Linked DNA regions of Homo sapiens: region 1 is linked to region 2. A link means that fine-mapping ties the variant in region 2 to the plasma level of a protein whose gene starts in the linked region. Region 2 holds a variant in brackets. A gene starts in the other region. All regions are shown on their forward strands. Region 1 holds the start of CTSO (cathepsin O). Region 2 overlaps PLG (plasminogen).

What was found. PIP is the posterior inclusion probability: the model's chance that the variant is causal. Protein levels are from antibody-based Olink assays in UK Biobank. Linkage for the fine-mapping came from a reference panel and not from the study's own genotypes, which makes the PIPs less certain.
Region 1: it holds the start of CTSO, and the variant in region 2 is fine-mapped to the plasma level of the CTSO protein (UK Biobank, PIP above 0.99).

Annotation. Positions count from the first base shown.
Region 1 is chr4:155,953,502-155,957,888 of GRCh38, forward strand. It overlaps CTSO (cathepsin O), which reads right to left and starts at 365. Exons shown (of 8, transcript NM_001334.3): 1 at 212-365. The coding sequence starts at 346. RefSeq lists an enhancer at 1,476-1,770.
Region 2 is chr6:160,727,453-160,731,853 of GRCh38, forward strand. PLG (plasminogen) reads left to right here. Exons shown (of 19, transcript NM_000301.5): 11 at 3,599-3,780; 12 at 4,293-4,401. Among named protein-coding and RNA genes, the nearest start is that of PLG, 27 kb to the left of the region's middle. The variant G/A (reference allele first, on the strand shown) is at 1,822.

The DNA.
Region 1 (4,387 bases), not on the chromosome of region 2:
TTAGCAAAGGCATGGGGGAGTGACACCATGGCACAAGGAGAGGGGAGAGAGAAGCTGGCTTTTGCACCCGCAGCTCAGGGCCCCAGACGCATCGCAGAGCCACGGGTGCCCACGAGCAGGGTCAGCTCTCGGGGGCCCTCTTCCGCAGCCCAGACCCGGGACAGGAAGTGAGGGAGCAGGGACAGATCCCGGGGAGGCGCGCGCTCGGTACCCGGAAGGCGGCGGCTTCACGCTCGCGGCTCCGCGGCCAGGTCGGGGTGAAGGGGGCGCGGGAGTCCGCATCGCCGCCGCCCCGGCACAGCAGCCACAGCAGCCACGGCAGCCACGGCAGCGCCCGCACGTCCATTGCGGCGCCCGGCTCCTCTGCCGCCCGCGCGGCCTGTTTTCTCTTTCGGTTCCTCGGCTCCTCCCAGCCTGGGCTCGAGGGGCGGAAGGAGCTGGGTTGAGTGCACGATGCTGAGATTGACCCTTTTTTAGGTCCCCGGTGTTCTGTGACTGAAAATCCGGTCAGCTGGAGGCTACGGACCTCCTTGCTGAGGCTAGTTTTTTTGTTTTTGTTTTTGTTTTGGAAGAGTCAGGCACTTGACCATGTGCTTTCGAGGTTTCACTTCCATCCATTAGAAAAAAAGAAGCCTGAGAGTCATTCTTTTGTGTGTGTTGAGATCAGGTCTCACTGCAGCCTCGACCTTCAGGTTCAAGTGCCTCCTGCCTCAGCCTCCGGAGTACCTGGGACTACAGGCGCGTGCCACCACCCCAGGCTATTTTTGTATTTTTAGTAGAGATAGGATCTTGCCATATTGCCCAGGCCGGTCTCGAACTCCTGGACTCTAGTGATCCACCCGCCTTGGCCTCCCAAAATGCTCACAGGTGTGAGCCACCTGGCCTGCCCTGTGAGCCACCGGAAGCTGCCTTTTTCCTTCTTGCCACAATCCCTAAGTTCAAGACCTAGTTCTGAAGTGATGTGGGCCAATACATAGAGTCATCCATTCAGCAGATGTTTATAAATACGTAACAAAATTGTACAGATGTGAAAAGCATACACAGTTTTTGGATCTATTATGGCAGTTTCAAAACTCTTGAAGCCTGTTTCTCCGTTTGCAAAGGAAGATAGAGCCAAGTACATAATTTGCAGGGTTCCGTGTAAACTGAAAATGAAGTTCCCTTGTTCATAAATTGTGAAGAATTTCAAGACGGCAACAGCAGAGCATTAACCCAAGCCATGGGCCTTCTAAGCACCCACTTCTGCACAGGTCACACACTCATGAACCTGGCTCTACCGAGCCTTTCTATTATCATCTATTCTGAACAAGGCTTCCATGTCTGTGAAATTCATATCATTACCCTTGTAGATTTTTAGAACTAACATCAGATTTATGTCTTTAGTTTTTACCTAGGTGCAGTGAGTTACAATATTCTCCAATGCAAACTTCGTAATAAAAATAAAAATAATGTTCCGAGTATTAAGAGGAAAGACACAAGAGTTTTTTATGTACGTTCATGATAAGATATATTGCTCTTGGCAAGTGTGGTGATAAAGATTTTATTTAAATCATAAGTTCACAGAACGATGTTCATGTTTACCTCAGCAGTTCTTTTGTACTTAGCCCTTTTTTGTGACTCATACAAGCACATACTTTTCTTTTTAAACTGAACTTTGCTTTCAGATCATAGTCCCTGTTTATTGACAACCTACGGAGTCAGGAAATTTAAATATAGGCAGTCATCTTTACTTTAGGATAATTGGTATTGTAAAAAAGCCCCTTGAACTAAACTCATTTCAGGAGCTCACATCAAGTATTTATTGAGTACCTGCTAAGTGTCAGGCATTCTTCTAGGTAATGAGGATATATCAAGTAAGTGGATAAGTGACTAAAGGGATGAAAATCCCCATCCCTATGGGACTGATATTTCAATTGATTTACATCAACAAATATTTTATTGAGTACTTCCTAAGTGTCAGGCATTGTTCTAGGTCATCAGGACACATCATGGATGGAAGTGCATAAGTGACTGAAGAGATGAAAAGCCCCACCCTGTTGAAGCTGGTATTTCAGTGAGGGGGAGAGACGCAATAAAATTACTACAGGTTGAGGATCCCTTATCCACAATGCCTGGGTCTGGAAGTGTTTCAGATTTCAGATTTTTTCCCCCCAGATTTTGGAATATTTGCATATACATAATGAGATCTCTTGGGGATGAGACCCAAGTCTAAACACAAAATTCATTTGTGTTTCACTTATGCTACTGACTGAAGGTAATCTTACTGACTATTTTAGGTAATTTTATGCATAAAACAAGGCTTTGAATGCATTTTGACTATGACCCACCACATGAAGTCAGGTGTGAAATTTTCTAGGTGTGGCATGATGTCAGTACTCAATAAGTTTTAGATTTTGGAGTATTTTGGGTGTTTGGATTAGAGATGCTCAACTTGTACATGTGTTAAAGGACAATAAATCCAGATAAGGAGCATCATCAGTGTGAGGGGTGGTACTGCTATTTTAAATAAGCTGTTCAATACTGTCCTCACTGATGAGGAGAGTTTTGAGCAAAGATTTGAAGGAGAAGAAAGTGAGCCACATGGATATTCAGATATCCAGGGAAAGAGAAGCTAAGACAGAAAGAACTGTCAACACAAAGGCCTTGAGATGGAAGTTTGCTTGGCACGTTCCAGAAACATAAAAGACGTCAGCATGGATGGAGTAAAGGAAAAAAAAAAGGATGGGGGAGAGTAGAATATGAGATAAGTAAGAAGCGCACAGATTGTGAAGAATTTTGGGTCAGTTAAAAGGGAGATCAGAATCATCTATTAAGTAGTAAAACAAAGTTTTTGAAAAGTGGCTTGAAAAGTGAAGGTGGCAAGTATCTGCTAATTCTTAGAATAAACACTACAAATTACATGTATATGTAGAGATGTGTTTTTTTCATCAAATTTGCAAAATAGCACATGGAACTTCCCTCAACTCTGTATTAGATATCTATTGCCATGTAAAATATAACCCTCAAACTTAGCATCTTAAAAATACGAATTTTTCTTATCTTAAACAGTTTCTGTGGACCAGGAGGGAGCAGCTTATCTGGGTGGTTCCAGCTCAGAGTGTCTCATGAGGACGCAGACAAGCTGTTGCATATGGCTGCAATCTTCTGAAGGTTTCCCAAGTTTAAAGGATTCAATTTCAAGCTCATGTGGCTGTTAGCAAGAGTCCTCAGCTCCTCTTAGGCCTTTGGACAAAATCCTCAGAACCTTATCAGAAGGCTGGGCTTTTCCTGCCAGCTCTTTGTTCCTGCAGAATGAGTGAATAGAGAAATTGAGACAGTGGACCAGGGAATGACTGAGGTGGGAGCAGCAGTGTCTTTTTATAACCTTATCTTGAAACATATCATCTCTTCTGCCATTGGTTACACAGAGCCAGTCTGGTAAGATGTGGGAGGTGGAGCTGACATAAGGTGGGGTCATCAGGTGCCATCTTGGAGGCCCGCTACCACAGCCTCATGTTGAATGTTATAAGCCCAGTAACAAATGCAGTCATTTCTTTATGTGTGAAAATACTCCAGAGCTAACCATTTTCACAAATACCTCTTAACCTTTATGATACACAAATCAATATTTACTGTTGTTTTTATCCCGTTATGCACCTTCTGGGTTTTCTTCCATTTTTAATCATGCTACTTCATGTTTCAGTGACTTTGCTACGGAATTATTTTGTTTCTTTGTTTTTTTTTTTTTTACCTTTTTTTTGTTTGTTTGTTTGTTTGTTTTGTTTTGTTTTGAGATGGAGTATCTCTCTTGCTCAGGCTGGAGTGCAGTGGTATGATCTCGGCTCACTGCAACCTCTGCCTCCCGGGTTCAAGTGATTCTTCTGCCTCAGCCTCTCAAGTAGCTGGGACTACAGGTGCACACCACCATGCCCAGCTAATTTTTGTATTTTTAGTAGAGATGAGGTTTCATCATGTTGGCCAGGATGGTCTCAATCTCTTGACCTCGTGATCCACCCGCCTCAGCCTCCCAAAGTGCTGGGGTTACAGGTGTGAGCCACTGTGCCCAGCTGGAGATTTCTTAAAAAGCTGAAAGTAAACTACCATTTGATCCAGCAGTCTCACTACTGAGTACCTACCCAAAGGAAAATAAGTCATAATATGAAAAACACACATGCACACACATGTTTATAGCAGCACAATTTGCAATTGCAAAGATATGGAACCAACCTAAATGCCCATCAACCAATGAGTGGATAAAGAAAATGTGGTATATATACACTGTGGAATACTAGTCAGCCATAAAAAGGAACGAAATAATGTCTTTTGTAGCAACTTGGATGGACTGGAGGCCATTATTCTAAGTGAGGTAACTCAGGATTGGAAAACCAAATATTGTATGTTCTCACTT
Region 2 (4,401 bases):
AAAAAAAAAAAACCCTAGTTGTAAAAAAGTAGACAAGGATATTGTGAGAAACTATAGCACATTATGTATTGTGAACATAAATATAAAAAGATGTAACAAAATTTTAATCATTAACATGATGAATATCCCAAACAAGTGAAGCTTCTCTTCAAGAATGCAAGGCTGGCTTAACATTTACAAAACAATCCATGTAATCCAACATGTTAACAGAATAAAAGTGATAAATCATATGATTATGTCAATAGATGCAGAAGAAAATGTGACAAAATTTAACACTTATCCATGATAAAATGTCTTAGCAAACTATGAATAGACTGGAACTTCTTTAACTTGATCAAAGGCATCTACAAAAGACCTCCAGATAACATCAACTTAATGGTGAAAGATTAATGTTTTCTCTCTAAGATTGGGAATAAGAAAAATATGTTTGCTCTCAGTACTTCTAATCAGCATTTTACTACATTGGTCACAACCATTGCCATAAGACCTGAAAACAAAACAAAAAGAGAGGAAAAAAAGGAAGGAAAGAAAGAAAGGGCCTAAAGTTTGGAGAGGAAGAATTAAAACTGCCTGTATTCACAGAAAGCTTAATTAACGGATGCAGAAAGTCCTAAAGATTAATAATTAAATTTTGCAAGATTGGAGAACACATAAGTATATACATGATCAATATAATAAAAGTAGTTGTATTTTTATACACTGCCAATGATCAACTGGAAAATAAAAATGTCAGAGCAATACCACTGACAATAGTATCAAAACCACAAGATATTTAGTGATACATTTAACACAATATGCACAAGAATTATGTACTGCATACTAAAAAACATTGTTAAGGAAGGAATCAAAAGATCTAAATAAAGATATATCACGCTTATATATTAAGAGTCAATATCACTTCTCACCAAATTGATCTTTGGATTCAGCCCATACCCAACCAGAATCTCAGCAGTCGTTTTTTTTAAAAAATGTGAAAAAATGTATATGCTAGAATCACAAGGACAATATTTAAAGAGAAGAAAAAAGTTGGAGGACTTACTTACCCAAAGGTAAAGACCTATAAAGGTACAGTAAACAAGATATGTGGTATTGGGAAAAAAAAGTATACAGATATAGAAATGGATGGTCCAGAAACAGATCCACATATACATGATCAATTTAGTTTCTAGGTAGGTGACAAGGAAATTCAACAGGGAAAAACATCTTTTCCAAAATCATTGTGAAACAATCGGATATCCATCTAGAAAACAAAAATAAAAACAAATTTTGACTTCTACTTTCCATCCCAAATTAATGTGCAAAAGCTCCTAGATCTAAATGTAAGAGCTAAAACTTAAGCTGAAATAAAACAATTCCAGGAAAATATATAATATTTTCACAAACTTGAGGAAGGCAAAATTTTTTTCAGGCAGGACCCAGAAAACACTAGCTTTAAAAGAAAATAAATTATAATTTGGGCTTTCATAAAATGAAAATTATGTTCATCAAAAGTCATTGTTAAGAAATCAGTAGGTAAGTAACAGACTGGAATAAAAATTCTCTCCATCCATATATCTGACAAATGGTTTGTATCTAGAGTATAAACGTTTCTCCCACTCACTAATCAGAGGACAAACAACCTAATTAAAATGGGCAACAGAATTGAATAGGAAATTTCTCAGGGAACGATGGACAGATGGACAATAAGCACCTGAAAAAATGCTCAACATTTTAGCCATCAAAGATATAAGAATTATAACCATCACAAGATGTCACCAACACTTAATGGGCATGGGTATCATTAAGAAGACACAACAATAAGTGCTGTCACTGATGTGGAGC[G/A]AGGATGTGCAGCTCTCGCATACGCTGGTTAAAGTACAGTATGCTGGTTTTCCATAAAGTTAAATAACTATGAGTCTACCCCAAAAAACTGCAATTCTATTCCTGAATATTTACCCCATGGAAATGAAAACAGAAGTCCACAAAGAGATCTACAAGAATATTCACAGCAGCTCTAGTTATTATAACCCCAAACTGTAAACAACTACAAGGTCAATCAATGAGAAAATGAATCGATAATTTGTGATCTATTCATATAATGGAATATTATTAAGCAATTAAAATGAAGAAGTGACTGATCCTCTCAAATAGGATGGATGGAACTCAAAAATATATTAAGGAAAGGAGGCAGATACATAAGTGTACATTCTGTATGAGCCCATTTATATCAGGTTTGAGGAGAGGTAAAACTAATCTTTAGTGAAGGAAACCAATAGTATTTCCCTCTGGCAGTGGGAAGAGGGTAGCAGGAATTGAATGAGCAGTGACACAGGGTGTTTCTAGAGTAATGGAAGTGTTCTGTATCATATGGGAGTGTGGTTTACACAAGTATAGGTGATCATCAAAACTCACCAAACAACATTTAAGATCTGTGCATTTCACACTATGTAAAAGTATACCTCAACTGAAGAGAGTGGAAATCTGTTTCAAATGCTCAGCCTTTTAACACATCCAGTTGCTTAGACTATGAACTTCCTCAAATGGGGTGTCTGGGCTTGAGATTAGATCACATGTGTAGAGTCGCTAGAGAGACAATGTTGCATTCCCATGGTACATAATACATTTCCCGTTTTCTCAGACAGCCACAGGTCATGAATGTGAGGATTCTGAGAGGTTGGAGCAACATTCTTGGGAGGCATGAGGGGGAGCACATTCTCCAAGATCCCCCCCAGCCCGGGGTCCTCGCCTGCTTTGACTATTACTCCGTTGTTTTCGGACTCCTCCGTAGCTGCCCGACCTCTTCAGATCCCATAGTCTCCCTTTATATCTTGAGTCCCACTGTTCTTCCAACTCATCCCCCATTCCCTCAGACCTGGAGTGGCAGTGGCCAGCAGAGGATGGATTGAGAGCAGGAGAGGATGTCCTGCCCAGGAACCCATCCTAGAGAAATGGCATCCTGCCTGGGAGCTAGTTTCCCAGGGTGGCTTTGATACGTCTTGCAGAAACAAACCCACTTGACACACCTGATACGGTATTGACAGTAACACTATTTTTCGTGGTTGTTTTTCATAGTAAAAGTAGATCCCTTTAGTTACACTGTGAGTACTTAGAGTAAGGTGACTGGCCTGGGAATGATACCATCTTGGATGTCATTTTCTCCTTGGAGAAATGTATTTTAGTTCCAATGCACATTTCACAATACAGTCCTATAGAGAGAAATACAGAGAGCTAGACAGTTAGAGATATACTTTTATGTGCATAAAAATATAAAATATGCACTTTAAAATCTGTACCTGTTATTCCTGAGAAATGTATTTGGCAGAAGGTGGGAGGGGGATATTCTGATCCTTTTATTTACATGTTTATGTATGATCTGAGTTTTTATATGGAGCATATACTACTTTTGATTTTTTAAAGAAAAATTAAAATCTGTCTTTGAAATGTACACAGTTGTTTAGAAGTTGAGGACCATTTTTGTTTGTTACAACATTATTGTACCTATAATGGGAATATTTCAAAGCCACTTGTTAACACTTTGTTAGAACAAAATGTAGAGGGTGCTGGGTGCCCCTGAATATTCTCCCACCTCTTGTGACCTGTATTGTTTTGGAATTTCCAGTGGCCTGACAATGAACTACTGCAGGAATCCAGATGCCGATAAAGGCCCCTGGTGTTTTACCACAGACCCCAGCGTCAGGTGGGAGTACTGCAACCTGAAAAAATGCTCAGGAACAGAAGCGAGTGTTGTAGCACCTCCGCCTGTTGTCCTGCTTCCAGATGTAGAGACTCCTTCCGAAGAAGGTAAGAAATCTGTGGCTGGACATCTACACACTTGGACGCTGGGATGAAAAGCCATGGAAAATCTCACTGATGCAGAAACCTTCCATGCTACACGAGAAATCAAGTGTTTTTAGAGGGTCTGCCATGTGGAAGGAAGCCTCAGTGCACTCTCTCAAGGAGGCAGAGGTGTGACTTTTGGCACAACGTGAGTGGGCTGTGCCTTTAGGACAGGTGCAAACCCTCCAAGGTGCTCAACTTAACCACTCACCTTGTTCTAAAATGGGTTATCTCAGTATCCCAGTCCAAATTCGTATTCTATCATGCTGCCATATGTGTGATTCTTTCCAAGCCAGTAAGCATCTCCAGTAATTTCTTAAGGTAGGCAGCGTTCATTGCAGTCTTCAGCATTGCAGTTTCTGAGGAATGTGGCCCCTGATTCTGTCATCCTAGAGAAACCTGACATGACTGTATTGATTCCATATCATCCTGGGTCTCTGTGGCTCTTCATAATCATCCATTTTTTCCCTGTACAGACTGTATGTTTGGGAATGGGAAAGGATACCGAGGCAAGAGGGCGACCACTGTTACTGGGACGCCATGCCAGGACTGGGCTGCCCAGGAGCCCCATAGACACAGCATTTT